Regions from separate parts of the Homo sapiens genome. Here region 1 is linked to region 2. The links come from fine-mapping of genetic effects on gene expression. Tissue or cell type: whole blood. Region 2 holds a variant in brackets; the other region holds the start of a gene. All regions are shown on one strand. Distances are from middle to middle.

The links. PIP is the estimated chance that this variant, and not a neighbour inherited with it, causes the effect.
Region 1: it holds the start of PDS5A, and the variant in region 2 is fine-mapped to the expression of PDS5A in whole blood (INTERVAL, PIP 0.98).

The regions. Positions count from the first base shown.
Region 1 is chr4:39,973,728-39,981,831 of GRCh38, forward strand. PDS5A (PDS5 cohesin associated factor A) reads right to left here and starts at 4,184. Exons shown (of 33, transcript NM_001100399.2): 1 at 3,730-4,184; 2 at 2,713-2,890. The coding sequence starts at 2,850. It also overlaps the pseudogene PABPC1P1. RefSeq lists an enhancer at 2,523-3,431 and silencers at 2,969-3,718, 3,769-4,408.
Region 2 is chr4:39,818,190-39,826,293 of GRCh38, forward strand. PDS5A (PDS5 cohesin associated factor A) reads right to left here. Exons shown (of 33, transcript NM_001100399.2): 33 at 4,674-7,299. The coding sequence ends at 7,296. Among named protein-coding and RNA genes, the nearest start is that of UBE2K, 120 kb to the left of the region's middle. RefSeq lists an enhancer at 2,010-2,547. The variant C/T (reference allele first, on the strand shown) is at 4,848.

The sequences.
Region 1 (8,104 bases), 160 kb after region 2:
GCAGAGAATGGCAAGTGTACGAGCTGTGCCCAACCATGTAATCAACCCCTACCAGCCAGCACCTCCTTCAGGTTACTTCATGGCAGCTATTCCACAGACTCAGAACCGTGCTGCAAGACCGGGCGCGGTGGCTCACGCCTGTAATCCCAGCACTTTGGGAGGCCAAGAGGGGCAGATCACGAGGTCAGGAGATCGAGACCATCCTGGCTAACACGGTGAAACCCGTCTCTACTAAAAAAATACAAAAAATTAGCCGGGCATGATGGCGGGCGCCCGTGGTCCCAGCTACTCGGGAGGCTGAGGCAGGAGAATGGCGTGAACCCGGGAGGCGGAGCTTACAGTGAGCCGAGATCGCACCCACTCCAGCCTGGGCGACAGAGCGAGACTCTGTCTCAAAAATAAATAAAAACCGTGCTGCATACTCTCCTCCTAGCCAAACTGCTCTACTGAGACCAAGTCCTCGCTGGACTGCTCAGGGTGCCAGACCTCATCCATTCCAATATGCCAGGTGCTATCCCCAAGCTGCTCCTATACCACCACTTAATACTATGAGACCAGCTTCTTCACAGGTTCCATGAGTCATGTCAACAGAGCGGTTGCTAACACATCAACTTTCCATTTTTTAACCAAATTATCCAACATTAGAATTCAAGGTTTCAATATTCTTAATTTGAAAACAATAAATATTAACGATCCATCAATTGTTTAAGTTTTATATTTCATAATTTCTCACTCCCAAAACAGTGTAACTTTTAGAAGCATCAATCAAGCAGCTCAATTCATGTATAATCTTTAGTATCAATATTTGCTTTATTTATTTTATTTTACTTTTTTGAGATGAAGTTTCACTCCTGTTGCCCAGGCTGGAGTGCAATGGCGCGATCTCCGCTCATCAAAACTTCCGCCTCCCGGGTTCAAGCGATTCTCCTGCCTCAGCCTCCCAGTAGCTAGGATTACAGGTATGCGCCACCACGCCCAGCTAATTTTGTATTTTTAGTAGAACTCCAGACCTCGGGTGATTTGCCTGCCTCGGCCTCCCGAAGTGCTGGGATTACAGGCTGGAGCCACCACACCAGGCCCAAGATTTGTTTTAATGAAAGGGGCTGGGAGCAGTGGCTCACACCTGTAATCGCAGCATATTGGGAGGCCGATGCAGGCAGATCATTCGAAGTCAGGAGATCGAGACCAAAGTGACCAACATAGTGAAATCCCATCTCTACTAAAAATACAAAAATTAGCTGGGCGTGGTGGCAGGCACCTGTAATCCCAGCTACTAGAGAGGCTGAGGCAGAATTGCTTGAACCCGGGAGGTGGAGGTTGCAGTGGGCCGAGACGCGCCACTGCACTCCAGCCTAGGTGACAGAGCAAGACTCCGTCTCAAAAAAAAAAAAAAAAAAAAAATTTAGCCGGGTGTGGTGGCACACGCTGGTAGTCCCAGCTACTTGGGAGGCTGAGGCAGAATAGCTTGAACCTGGGAAGTGGAGGTTGCAGTGAGCTGAGATCCCGCCGCCGCACACAGATTTGTTTTAATGAAAGGAACTGTTGTCTTATTCCTTCCAAAAAGGCAACAAATTGCAGAACCAAATTAAGAGTCTGAAAACTAAACCACAGGAATATTTTAAATACTGTACTCATTAAAATGCAACATTAGGTACATTTACTGGGCTCCAAGAGCAAGAGGCCAAGCTCATTCCCTAAAATACATTTGGCCAAGTGGCCCAAGGTGGAAACATTGTCAACAATGTTGCTTCCCTCACCTCCCACCAATTCTGATTGATTCTAACTCTGAAAAGTTGTTAAATCATTTCCTAGTCACTATTACCAATGCCATAGCCCTACCTGAAGATTTCAACGTCTTTCACCTAGACTACTGTTTACAGTTTCCTAGCCGGACTCACTGCCTCTGGTCTTCCCCTACTCCAATCTAGCACCAATTGTGACAACCAAAATGTCTCCAGCATTGCCAAACATCTCCTGGAGGTCAAAGTTGCCCTGACTCAGAACCACTGCTTCAAGCTGTTCCTACAAGAAGAATATTACTTATTTGTTAAGATTCTGGCCACAATCTATGTCAGTGGAACAGAAACCAAAAAAACTAACAAACATGAGGTTGAAATTTAAAACCTTAACCTTAGGACTGCCATGCTTAAACAAAATTAGCTGACACCTCATAAAAAGGGCCATAATACTCTTAAACTCCTTTGAACGTATAGACTTAAATCATCTTACTTTAAGCCTGAATTATGAAAAGTCTGTACCTTCTGTCAAAGTTTAACCACCATATATACATATTTAAGCTTCTGGATATAGAAAATTATGCAAATTTTTAAAAAGGACTTTGCGCTTTAATCAATCCCCTTCAGAAGCTGAAAATAGTAAACTTCTTAGGCAAATTACTGCCTACACCTAAGTTTGCAAGCCACTCTGAACAGTATTCTCATTAAATACCTCCAGAAAAAACTCTAAAAACACAAATTCTTATGCTTGAAAACCAGTAAGTTTTTGAAAAATCACACTCCTTTTAAATTTCCCACAATGGTTATATCCCTACAAAACTCACTCAAAGATGTTATCTGAGATACAACAGTACCTTTCAGAGGGGGTAAGAGATCTAAAAAACTTGGAACTTTAAAGGCCAGACTGAGCAGGGTAGCAGTATCACAGGAGAAAGCGCCTTCTACCAAAGACATCAAAATCCGTCCAGACACTTACCTTCAGGCGTTTGATCATCTCGTCCGTGGTGATCTTGTCGGTGATCTCTTTTACCCCCGGAGGGTAAGCGATCTTCCCGTCGGCACTCACGACGCCACAGAGGGCAGTGGCAGGCTTGGGCTGCGCGGTGAAGTCCATCCTGGGGGACAACTTTTGGTTCACAGTCCTCTACCGGCCTCTATCGGTCAGAAAACCAAAGTTCAGCGGGAAAGGGGCGACTTTGTAACCTCTTTTTTCATTTCAAATCTCTCTAATCTGGAAAAGGCCCTGTCTCCCCAGAGGCCGGGGACCCGGCAGCGGCCTCGCCACCCGCTCTTTCCCAGGGATCGAACCCCGCCGGCCCCGCCAACCCGGCCCTGCCAGCCCCAGGCTCACGGGGCTCCTCCGCACCAGCCGCCGTGGCCGCCGAACAGCGCCAGGAGTTTCCCATTCCGCCTTTCACAATGAAATCCACCCCCGAGCACCAGGGTCCGAAGTTTGGCGGCCCCGGGAGGCCGGCAAGGACCCCAAGGCCCCCGCTCGGCGGTGGGGAAGCACCCAGTCCCGCCCGGCCAGTCCCCTCCGGGAAACCAGACCCGAGGCCTATAGGGCTCGGCTTAGGCCGCAAAACTAGGGACCCAGCGGACCCACGCGCAGCGGCGGCTGCCGGGAACAAAACGCCCTTGCCCAGCCGAGCCTCGGACCCGGGGTAGTCCCCGCCGCGCTGCCACCCCTCCCCTGTTCCGCTCCCTCACCCCCGCGGGAGGGGAAAACAAGCCGCCCTCCACCCTCAGCCCCACGCCAGGAAGCGGCTGACGCGCCTCCGCACTTCACATTTTGTTCCTTCAACTTCGGCTGAGGGACCCCAGCTGCTTCTCTGGCCCCCGGCCGCTTGGCGCCTCCGGCACCGCCGAGGCCTTCCCGGCACCCTCGGGCGGCCCCACCGGGCCTCGGACCCGCGGCCCCCCCCTCCAGTCTCCCCTTCCGTCCCCTCCCTCCAGCAGCCTAGGGCGGGAGCCGAGCCGCCGCCGCCTTTACCTCCTCCTCATGCGGGCGGAAGGTGCATCGAGCGCCCGGGCCTCTGTCAGGTGGTTGCGCCGCCGCCCCTAGTCGGGCTGCACACAAAGCGGCTCCGCGGGTCCCGCCGCCGCCGCCGCCGCCGCCCGCCCGCCCGGGAGCGGCGCTGGGGCTGGCGGTGCCGAGGAGGAGCAGCCGCCGCGGGGGGAGACGCGGGGCGAGTGAGCGCTGGGCGGGGAGACAGTGCCGCTCTCCGTCTGGCCGAGGAAGAGCAGCCTCGAAGGCTCCTCCGGGAGTGTGTGCGCTTGTGTCCGTCCGGGACCCCCGCGGCCCGCCCGCACGCACCTCGCGCCGGCCCGGACCGCCGACTCGGACCCGGACGCCCCTCGCAGAGGCGCGCGCCCGGCCGTCCGTGCCCCGGGAGCCGGGGCCTCGCGCACACACCGGCCGGTCACGCGAGCGGCGCGAGAGCACGCGAGAGCAGCGCGCGCTCCTCGCTCCCTCCCCTTCCTCCGCCGGCCGTGCATCCGCCTCCCTCGGGCCCGAGGCGGCCGCGCGCAGGGCGGACAGCGCCGCCACCCGGTTGGCGCCAATACCTGCCGCGCGGGGCGCCTCCCGGAGGACCCGACCGGAGAGGGCGAGAGGAGGAGGAGCCCGGGTGGCGGGAAGCGAGCCCAGGTTCCCGCGGCCTTGCGAGGGCACGCAGGGCAAACAGTGCTTTATCTTTCGCAGCGGCGATGAGCTGGTGACTTTTGGGGGTCATCCTGAGGGACATAGACGAAACTGGTTGGGAGGTAGTTAATTGCTCGGTGAAAATGAACTGATTTCCTCCTCAGGGAGAGATCTGCAAAGTCAAGGAAAGTTGTGCAATGGGGCGCAGCGTGAGCGGCTCACTCTCGGGTCTTCTGACAGCCACCCGAGTTGCCCACCCTCCTTAGATTTCTGAAGTTAATATTTTGAAAGCTGCAAAACATGAAAATAGCATTGGGTCGAGTCGTTCTCAAGGTATGGTCTTTGGGCCACCAGGCCTCACAATCACTTTGGGTACTGGCTGAAAACGTAGGTTTCCAACTCCAAAGATTAAAAAACATAAAAATATATGTTTTTTTAACGTAAAAATATATATGAACATAAAACATATAAAAATATAACATATAAAATAAAACACTAAAAAATATAAAAATATACATAAACATAAAAATCTCTGAGAGTGGAACCCAGAAATAAGCATTTATTAATTGGGTGGGTGATTCTTGTAAATAAGGAAGAGCTCATTTTTTAAAAATGTTTTAAACCTACCAAGCATTAACGTTTTCTGTCATCCAAAGGAAAACCACTATCAGGTAAAAACAGTGCACGCAGCAGTGTTTGAGCAATTTAATGTATGTAATTGAAACAAATTAACGCAAGAACATACACTTACCTATTTAAAAAAAATCAAGAGCATACACAAAATTTCCGAAGAGAAAGTTGAAAAAAGGATACGATAATATGAAATCACATTCAGCTCTTGAAACTGACCACTACCATAGTTTAAAATGATATTCGATTGTTTATTCAAATTATTCTTGATGGGTACCCATTGGTCTATTTTTTTCCCACATCCTTTAACGTCAACTTAAAAATAGTAAAGGTACTGCATTTCAGCTCACTGACTTGTTTTTGACGTATTACACAAGAGCAGTCATTGCGAATCTGACACTCCACAGTTGCTGATTTGCTAGAACTCTGCCCAAAAGTCAATGCTTTGTTCTTGGGCATTTACAGTACCAGGCAGAATCCATTTAAAAGTGTCCTCATCCAAACTATTAAGTGGACCAAAAGCTGCTCTCTTTTTAGGCTCTCCCTGTCACTTTTGATATTTATTTTTTTCTTTTGAGACGGAATCTTACTCTGTCACCCAGGCTGGAGTGCAGTGGCGTGATATCGGCTCACTGCAAGCTCTGCCTCCCGGGTTCACGCCATTCTCCTGCCTCAGTCTTCCGAGTAGCTGGGACTACAGGCGCCCGCCACCACGCCCGGCTAATTTTTTTTTTTTGTATTTTTAGTAGAGACGGGGTTTCACCATGTTAGCCAGGATGGTCTCGATCTCCTGAGCTAGTGATCCGCCCGCCTCGGCCTCCCAGAGTGCTGGGATTACAGGCATGAGCCACCGCGCCCGGCCAAATTTGATATTTCTTTGTGTGTTACATTTAATTAAACAACAATGATTTTATCTTTCATCCTCCTCAGTAGCTTGCCCATTATTAAATGGAGTTTTGTATATGTACATATATTTTATTTTATTTATTTTTTATATTATTTTATTATTTTTTGAGATGAAGTCTCACTTTGTCGCCCAGACTGCAGTGCAGTGGCATGATCTCGGCTCACTACAGCATCCGCCTCCCAGGTTCAAGCGACTTTTGTGCCTCAGGCCCCCAAGTAGTTGGGACTACAGGTGTGTGCCACCATACCGGGCTAATTTTTTTTTGAGACAGAGTCTCCCTCTGTCGCCCAGGCTGGAGTGTGGTGGTGTGATCTTGGCTCACTACAACCTCTGACTTCTGGGTTCAAGCAATTCTCCTGCCTCACCCTCCCAAGTAGCTGGGATTACAGGCGCCCGCCACTATGCCCGGCTAATTTTTGTTATTTTTAGTAGAGACAGGGTTTCACCATGTTGGTCAGGCTGGTCTCAAACTCCTGACCTCAGGTAATCTGCCCGCCTCACCCTCCCAAAGTGCTGGGATTACAGGCTTGAGCCACCGTGCCTGGCCTTACTGGTTGATTTCTTTTTTTTTTTTTTTAACATGGAGTCTCACTCTATCACCAGGCTTGAGTGCAGTGGTGCGATCTCGGTTCACTTCACCTCTGCCTCCCAGGTTCAAGCGATTCATCTGCCTCAGTCTCCCAAGTAGCTGGGACTACAGGCGTACACCACCACGCCCAGCTTATTTTTATATTTTTAGTAGAGATGGAGTTTCACCATATTGGCCAGGCTGATCTCGAATTCCTGACCTCGTGATTTGCCCGCCTCGGCCTCCCAAAGTGCTGGGATTACAGGTGTGAGCCCCTGCGCCTGGCCTATTTTATTTTTTCGAGACGAAGTCTTGCTCTGTTGCCCAGGCTGGAGTGCAGTGGTACAATCTGGGCGCACTGCAACCTACGCCTCCTGGGTTCAAGCAGATCTCCTGCGTCAGCCTCCCAAGATCTGGGACTACAGGCATGCGCCACCACGCCTGGCTAATTTTTGTACTTTTAGTAGAGACAGGGTTTTACCATGTTGGCCAGCCTGGTCTCGAACTCTTGACCTTAGGTGATCCACCCACCTTGGGCTCCCAAAGTGCTGGAATTACAGGCATGAGCCACTGCACCCAACCTCCACCAAGCTTTTCTTCCCCGCTCAGTGCCCAAAACAATGCCTTATATTATAGGCCTCTTTAAATAATTGTTTCACAAATGAAGGCCTGCCCTCCTGGTGGACCTTAATTTGTTTGGGGAGAAATAGACCAAAATAACAATAATACATGTATATGAAAATAAAGTAGGGAAGAGTTGGGCACGGTGGCTCGCACCTGTAATCCCAGCACTTTGGGAGGGGGAGGCAGGCAGACTATTTGAGGTCACGAGTTTCAGACCAGCCTGGCCAGCATGGTGAAACCCCATCTCTATTAAAAAGACAAAAAATTAGACTCAGTGGCTCAGGCACGGTGGCTCAGGACTGTAATCCCAGCACTTTGGGAAGCCGAGGTGGGTGGATCACCTGAGGTCAGGAGTTCCAGACCAGCCTGACCAACATGGTGAAACCCTGTCTCCACTAAAAATACAAAAATTAGGCAGGCGCACTGGCACATGTCTGTAATCCCAGCTACTAAGAAGGCTGAGGCAGGAGAATCGTTTGAACCGGGGAGATGGAGGTTGCAGCGAGCTGAGAAAGCACCACTGCACTCCAGCCTGGGCGACAGAGTGAGACTCCCTGGAGTGAGAGAGAGTACAGATCACATGTAGCCTTTTAGACCTCTGGTAAGACTGTGGCTATCCTCTGATTGAGGTGGGGAACTAATGGACTGTTTTAAGCAAAGAGGTGATATGATGTATGTCCTGAGTTAGGCAATGTTGGTCAAACCACTTAATTCTTCTGTGCCTCATTTTCTTCATCTGTAAAACAAGGATAATGATAGTATCTTCCTCACATGATCATTATGAGGAATACATAACTTAATTTTTTTTTCTGTCGCCCAGGCTGGAGTGCAGTGTTGCAGTCTCGGCTCACTGCAACCTCTGCCTCCCAGGTTCAAGTGATTCTCTTGCCTCAGCTTCCCTAGTAGCTGTGATTACAGGCACGCACCACCATGCCCAGCAATTTTTTGTATTTTTAGTGTGATGGGATTTCACCATGTTGGCCAGGCTGCTCTTG
Region 2 (8,104 bases):
TGTTCGACTACCATGCTGTGTGGATGCCTTGTCATTAAGACAACCTCCAAGCTGTGTATGTGTAGAGAGAAGAAAATGAGGCCGGGCGCGGTGGCTCATGCCTGTAATCCCAGCACTTTGGGAGGATGAGGCGAGTGGATCACAAGGTCAGGAGATCGAGACCATCCTGGCTAACACGGTGAAACCCCATCTCTACTAAAAATACAAAAATTATCCGGGCGTGGTGGCGGGCGCCTGTAGTCCCAGCTAGTCGGGAGCCTGAGGCAGGAGAATGGCGCAAACCCGGGAGGTGGAGCTTGCAGTGAGCCGAGATTGCACCACTGCACTCCAGCCTGGGCGACAGAGCCAGACTCTGTCTCAAAAAAAACAAAAAGAAAATGAGAACCAGTCTACTTTTAATATCCCTAATGAGCCATGGCTTCTAAAAAGACAGATCCTGTGCTCGTAATTATAAGCTTCCATGGGCAGCCGAGCTGCCAAATGGTCAAAAAATGCAGAGCCCTTAGTCCCTGGGTCCGGCCTACATCTAAAAGTAAGGCAGTTTTGGGGTAACCAGTATTTTGCTTTTCAGCTTTTGGCCTGAGGTGGGTTGCAAAGGGACAGCTTCCTTTCAGTCCCTGCGGTTGACCTTCCTCTTGGAGGGGACATGCCAGATGCATCCAGAAGGCTAAACTGCCAGGGTTTTCTTGGGGTAGGGGTTGGGGGGCCACCAGGGTGGAGCTCTTCAAAAAGGCTCTGAAAAATGGGTGCTTCGCGGGCTGCCTTGCTTTGGAGAAGTCCACTAAGCTCCTAAGGTGGCACAAAATTTGTCCAAAGGAGCCACAGGAATTACTGACACACAGAATTTGTGCTTTGAGTGGGGCGTGTCCCCTGTCCCTCAGGACTACAGTGGATAGAGAGGTTTCAGGGCTGGGACCAGCTCTTCCCCAGAGCAGGGAAGTTTAAGGCCCAGGGAGGTTTAAGGAGTGTTGGGATTCGCTGAAGTGGTGGCCTTCTTGTCTTTCCCCAGCCCTCAGCCTGGAGAGCCACCTCCAGCTTCAGGCCCAGCTCCTTGTGCCCTGAGGTAGGGCAGTTTGCTCAGGCCAGTCACTTCTTCTTTTTTTTTTTTTTTTTGAAACGGAGTTTTACTCTTGTTGCCCAGGCTGGAGTGCGGTGAGCGCGATCTTGACTCACCACAACCTCTGCCTCCCGGGTTCAAGCGATTCTCCTCTCAGCCTCCCAAGTAGCTGGGATTACAGGCATGTGCCAGCACATCTGGCTAATTTTGTATTTTTGGTAGAGATGGTTTCTCCATGTTGGTCAGGCTGGTGTTGAACTCCTGACCTTAGGTGATCCGCCCACCTCGACCTCCTAAAGTGCTGGGATTACAGGCGTGAGCCACTGCGCCTGGCCCAGTCACTTCTTTAGACACCTACATGCTCATAACAGTTCTCAGAATTGCACTTCAGTAGAAAAGGTGAGGATTTTCTGCTTCTACGGCATCCATCAGGGTTCTGAAGTCCACACAAAATGTATCACCTGGAACAGTCGCAGCTGCCTGTGTTATGTTGCTAGTCCTTGTAAGGCACCAATCCTGGTGTTTTTAATGTCGGCTCCTGGCATCGTGCCTAGTCTCTACAGATTACAAATGCCTGAAATGATGAAAAATGGCGACTCCCTATTTTCTAGTTGGCTTTTGCAGATCCAGAATCAGCACTACGGTGGCTCCTTACATGTCTTACTGACTTCTAGTGGTTTTTTTTGTATTAGTCCATTCTCATGCTGCTATAAAGAACTCCCTGAAGCTGGGTGCAGTGGCTCATGGCTGTAATCCCAGCACTTTGGGAGGCTGAGGCGGGTGGATCACCTGAGGTCAGGAGTTCGAGACCAGCATGACCAATATGGTGAAACCCCGTCTCTACTAAAAATACTACTACTCAGGAGACTGAGGCAGGAGAATCGCTTGAACCCAGGAGGCGGAGGTTGCAGTGAGCTGAGATCGCACCATTGCACTCCAGCCTGGGCAACAAGAGCAAAACTCCGTCTCAAAAACAAAAAAACAAAACAAAACAAAAGAAAACAAAAGCCTGCCTGAGACTGGGTAATTTAGAAAGGAAAGGTTTAATTGACTCAGTTCCGGATGGCTGGGGAAGCCTCAGGAAACTTAATCATGGTGGAAGGGGAAAGGGAAGCAAGGCACTTCTTATACGGCAGCAGGGGAGAGCCAGAGCAAGGAAGGGCCACACCTTTTAAACCATCAGATCTCATGAGAACCACTATCAAGAGAACAGCATGGGGGAAACCGCCCCAGATTCAATCACCTCCCACTAGGTCCCTCCCTCGACATGTGGGGGATGGCAATTTGAGATGAGATTTGGGTGAGGACAAAGAGCCAAACCATGTCACTATTCAAGCTTCTTCAGGAAGAATGGATGTAGTGCTATTTACTAAAAATAACAGGTTTTATTCAGAATGACACGGTCCTTGCTCAAGAACAACAGGAGTAACCAGAGAATGAGGGGAGATAAGTTAGCAATCAGTATTGATAAAGAAACATTTGAGAAACACCCCAAAACTGAAGTACTGATCAGCAGCCTGGCCCAGGTTCCTTAGAAATGAGACCTGTATATGTTCCCGTTAGGCTTTTTTTTCTTTGACACAAGGTCTTGGTCACCCAGGCTGGAATGCAGTGGTGTGATCTCAGTTTACTGCAGCCTCTGCCTCCTGGACTCAAGCAATCGTCCCACCTCAGCCTCCCGAGAAGCTGGGAAAACAGGCACGCACCACCATGCCTGTCTTATTTTTTTAATTTTTTGGTAGAGATGGGTTGTATGTTGCCCTGCTAAGACTTTGAACTATGATACAATAGTGAAATAAATGAAGGTTATTACTCTCATGGGAATGAAAAGTTGAAGGTATGGTTTACAGCAGAAAGGCACTTGATTCTGCACTCTCATTTCCATCCTCCCTACCTTGCTGGCTTATAGCGAACTCCTTGTAGGAAATGCTGTCACCGTTACCTAAGCAGGCTACAAAGCTGCTTGTCAGAGCAGGACAGTTCATGTGAGTAGCAAAGACAAAAAAGTCTTGTCAGTGCAAGTATTGGGGGTGGAAGGTCAACCCATTATGGGTAAAATACAAAACTAGGCATGATAGCTTTTCCTTTTTTTTTTGAGACAGGGTCTCAGCCTGTCACTCAGGCTGGAGTGCAGTGGTGCAAAATGTACGTTTCAGGCCTTTATTTACTTATTTTGAGACGGAGTCTCGCTCTGTTGCCCAGGCTGGAGTGTAGTGGCACAATCTTGGCTCACTGCAACCTCCGCCTCCCTGGTTCAAGCGATTCTCCTGCCTCAGTCTCCCGCGAAGCTGGGACTACAGGCGTGCGCCAGTATGCCTGGCTAATTTTTTTTATCTTTAGTAGAGACAGGGTTTCACTATGTTGACGAGGCTGGTCTCAAACTCCTGACCTCAGGTGATCTGCCTGCCTCAGCCTCCCAAAGTGCTGGGATCACAGGTGTGAGCCACCGTGCCCAGCCTATTATTTTTGAGACAGTTTCATTCTTATTGCCCAGGCTGGAGTGCAATGGCGCAATCTCGGCTCACCACAACCTCCGCTTCCCAGGTTCAAGTGATTCTCCTGCCTCAGCCTCCCACGTAGCTGGGATTACAGGCATGCGCCACCAAGTCTGGCTAATTTTTTTGTATTTTTATTCAAGACGGGATTTCTCCATGTTGGTCAGGCTGGTCTCGAACTCCTGACCTCAGGTGATCCACCTGCCTCAGCCTCCCAAAGTGCTGGGATTACAGCCATGAGCCACCACGCCTGGCCTATTTATTTTTGAAACAGTTTTGCTCTGTTGCCCAGGCTAGAGTGCAGTGGTGTGATCTTGGCTCACTGCAACCGACGACTCCCAGGCTCAACGGATTCTCCCACCTCAGTCTCCTGAGTAACTGGGACTACAGGTGTGCACCACCACACTCGGCTGATTTTTGTATTTTCGGTAGAGACAGGGTTCACCATGTTGCCCAGGCCAGTCTTGAACTCTTTAGGTCAAGTGACCTACCTGCCTCGGCCACCCTCCCAAAGTGCTGGGATTAAAGGTGTGACTCACTGCGCCCAGCCATGATAGACTTTCTTACCTCTCGTTCTGGTCACCTCTTACTCCAGATACATTTATGTAATCTGCTTGCTCTCTTGAATTTGTTATGGAACTAAATATGTGAGTGCAGAACTTGCAATGAATGGATGAACCATAGACTAATATGAATCAAAGGCTGCTATTAAATTCTTAGGTTAAAAAAATAACTTCTTGGCCAGGTCTGGTGGCTCAGGCCTGTAATCCCAGCACTTTTCTAGGAGCCTGGGGCAGGAGGATTGCTACAGTGAGCCATGATCATGTCATTGCACTCCAGCCTGGGCAACAGGGTAAGATCTCATTTCAAAAAAAAAGCCACCCCCTAAAACAAACCTCGTTTGGAAATTCCGAATGTGCCTCAGAATTTATCATCCACTATGTTCTTCCTTAGCCACTGTAAGCTACCTCAGAGTACCCAGCCAGGAAGTTTGAAGGTGGCTTTTGATTTCTAATTAGGATATTCAGACTCCAGCATCTCAACAGAAAATATGCAGAGACATTTTATCAACTTGTGACATACCAGGGGTACATGAATATTCAGGGCTCCACACTACTATATAATGCTGCATTTCTTGGTTTTATTTGAAACAGTGCATATTTTTAGCATTTTATGGTAGGATTTTACACTTGTCATTTACACAAATTACAAGGTTCTGCTTCAAGTTTTTAAAAAAAATTTAAAAATTCAGCCCATGTGCAGCACAAGAATATGCAAAACTACTTTACATTATA[C/T]ACACTTTTTATCAAAGGAGATACAAAATTCTGGCTTGTTGTTTTAGACAAATACAAGAAGCTTCAAACTAGACACAAAGGGTTAACATTAATTCTCAAATATAAGTCTGCACTTTTGTGTTGTAGTTCTCTGAGATGTGAATACCAAATTCCTAAGGGATTTTAATGTTTTCCTTTGAAAAGGAAAACTAAAAAAATTCCCGTAAACAAGTCCCTCCCCATCAGCTTGGTCTTTCCACAACCCTACTCTTGCTTCCCTTAGTGCCAGACACTTGCATCATGTTACAAAATTGGGGTGGGCCACTTACATCATACAAGGAGCAAATCCTTTTAACTTCTCTCCTGCAAAAATCTAAACAGGAATATATTGATGCAGATGGTTCTGCTACATTTTATTTAATATGATGTAACACTTGGTAATCTAGTAAACTGTGATGCCGGGCAATTAATCAAAGGGAGGAAGAGACAAAGGTCCCTATCAATGCACTTTTTGTTGGTGACACACTGGAAACCTTAGGAATCAAGTTGTCTGATGCTAAGAGAACTTTAAACTCTCTCTAAATAGAACACACCTACTGATTGCTTGAGGGACTTCTCTGATACTTATGCATAGATACTCTTTTTCAGCATGTTGGAGGCAATATTTTATACTTTCTAAAGGGTTCTGAAGAGGCAATAAGGAAGAGTGGGGATTTTTCTGCCCCTGTAAAGGTATCATTTTCTATCATTGGTATCCATTGTTCCCTAAGCATCTTCTGATACCTAAATGTGTGTAAATGCATATTTAAAATAATTACCCATCTTTCAGTCAATACACAGCCAACTCTTGATTATCTATGAGAAACGTAAGTGACATTTACTCTCAAACTTCACTCTAACAGAATCATCCACCTTTGATACACTTGTTTGTTTTACATCCCATGTACACTACAGCCTATCAAGACGAAGTTATAACACAAATGTTGTTTCCTCTGACCCATGCTAGAAACGTGTAAGGAAATGGAGTGAGCACATTCTGCTAGGGCTTTGCGGATGACCCTACAGTGGACAGTGGGGGCAGGATAGAACTCTGGACATGAGAAAAGACAAATTTCATGTTCCTCCAGAATCAGGTCTTACATGCCTTCGTTATTTTGTTATCACAAAATTAAAAACCTGAGGCTTAGTCACTATTTTATATAGATAATGGAGAGTTGACTGTAATCATGTTATGACTTTAGCTCTTTAACATGAAAAAATTCACAAGAAAGCATATGATAAAAAGATTAAAAAGACTGCCATGACATCTAGAAGCATTTATTTTATGCAAAAAACTTAAATATGATTATGTGTACACATAAAGTGCACACATTACCTATGCTGAACAATGCCAAGAAACATAATATATTGATGCAACAGTTTTCTAAAATAAACATAAAAATGAGCCCAGACCATCAGACAAAAGCAAAACACTTATTTCCAAATAGCACAATGCTGAAAATTGATAGCAATCCTAAAACACCTCCAACTTTCCTTAAAAGCTGCCAAAGTCCAACTATTTTTTAAAAATTGATTTTTTTTACATTAATAAAAATCTGGTGACAAACATTATAAAACCAAATGCTGGACAGTCTTTACTCCTTTAAAATTCCAAATATTCCAACATAATCACAGGAGTAAAAACCATTTTAAAGTGATATGCTTTATGAAACAAACAACAATATGTACATTTATTGCAAATTATATTAAACTAAAATGAGGGGAAATCAAAATATGAACTGTTTACTACTTGCAAATCAATAATTTTAATTTTCTCACTCTGATAAAAATCAGAAAGCAACATTTATAAAATTGCTACCACATCACTTTTCATAGCAGGGAACCGAAATCTGTACATCTCATTTTTGCAGAAAAGTAGGCAGGCAGAAAGAATTATACATAAAAGTTTCCAAAAGGAAAAACAAAGAAATATTTAATCTGATCTCTTTTCTTTTAAAAAATTAATTCAGTAGACTTCTATTTTTTCCTGTGTAACATGGGAATTCCTGGCTCTAAAATGGATGAATTTTCAGTGTCAGTGTAAAGACATCTTGTTACTTTCTTTAAAATAAAAACTGCAGCGTGGAAATTAATGGTGTATTACGCATTTAAACTCCAGATAGGCAGGAACTGGAACCAAGTGTTAAGCAATTTGCTTAATTATTGACTTTTCGTAAGAAAAGTCTAGGGGAAGGGGGAGAACAGAGTTGCTTTTAGCCTCTCTCTCAAGAGTTTCTGCTGTACATTTCCATCAGAGGACTTGTGGTCATGTGAAAAGGAAGTAATAGTCTCTTTAGTTTTCAAGGCAGAGAGTGTGTGTTCTGAAGTGAGCTTCATTTTCTGTTCAGGGACATTTGTGAATCCAAGTTTTTGCAGAAGCTGGAGCCTGCTTCTGTTTGGCCTTCATTTTCTCCCTTTGCAAATGCATTTTTACCTTAGGGTTAAGAATAGAACGCAAAGTTAGAAAAGATGTGGAGAAGATATAAACCAAACGAAAATGATTTCATTTCCATAGTTGTTATCTAAAATCTTTTTTTTTTTTTTTAAACTTAAGCATCAGGATCTCACTCTGTCACTCAGGCTGAAGTACAGTGGCACGATCATGGCTCACTCAGCCCCAACTCCTGGGTTCAAGTGGTCCTCCAGGCTCAGCGTCCAGCCTGAGCCTCCCAAATAGCTAGAACTATAGGCGCACACCACCATGGCTGGCTAATTTTTAAATTATTTGTACAGACGGGATCTCATTATGTTGCCCAGGCTGGTCTTCAACTCCTGAGCTCAAGCGATCTGGGAAGCCTGCGCTTCTCAGATTCACTACTGGGATTACAGGCATGAGTCACTGTGCTTGGCATGTTATCTAAAATCCTTAAAAAGTTTTTTCATTTTTTCACCTGAAACTTGGTTTAAAGAGCCTTTCCCTAAACTATATAAAAACCAAACACCAATAAAGAAGTTTTTGTTTTCAATGACTTAGTGCTGCTATCCAATGCCCTATTTGCTTACAACATTAAAAGCTATTTATCATACTATGGCAAAATGAATTTATAAGCAGCAAAATAACTTCTGACTCATGAGCTGGGTAAACATAAACGTTTTAGCATACTAAAAACATCCCAACCAAACTGGCGTGTTTTTTTTTTTTTTTTAAACGCATTTCCCTAATAGGGAGGGAAATTCTGATCCCTGGAAGCACAGGAGAGTGGGACATGGCCTCTTTCTCACCTCCTCTCACCTACTCC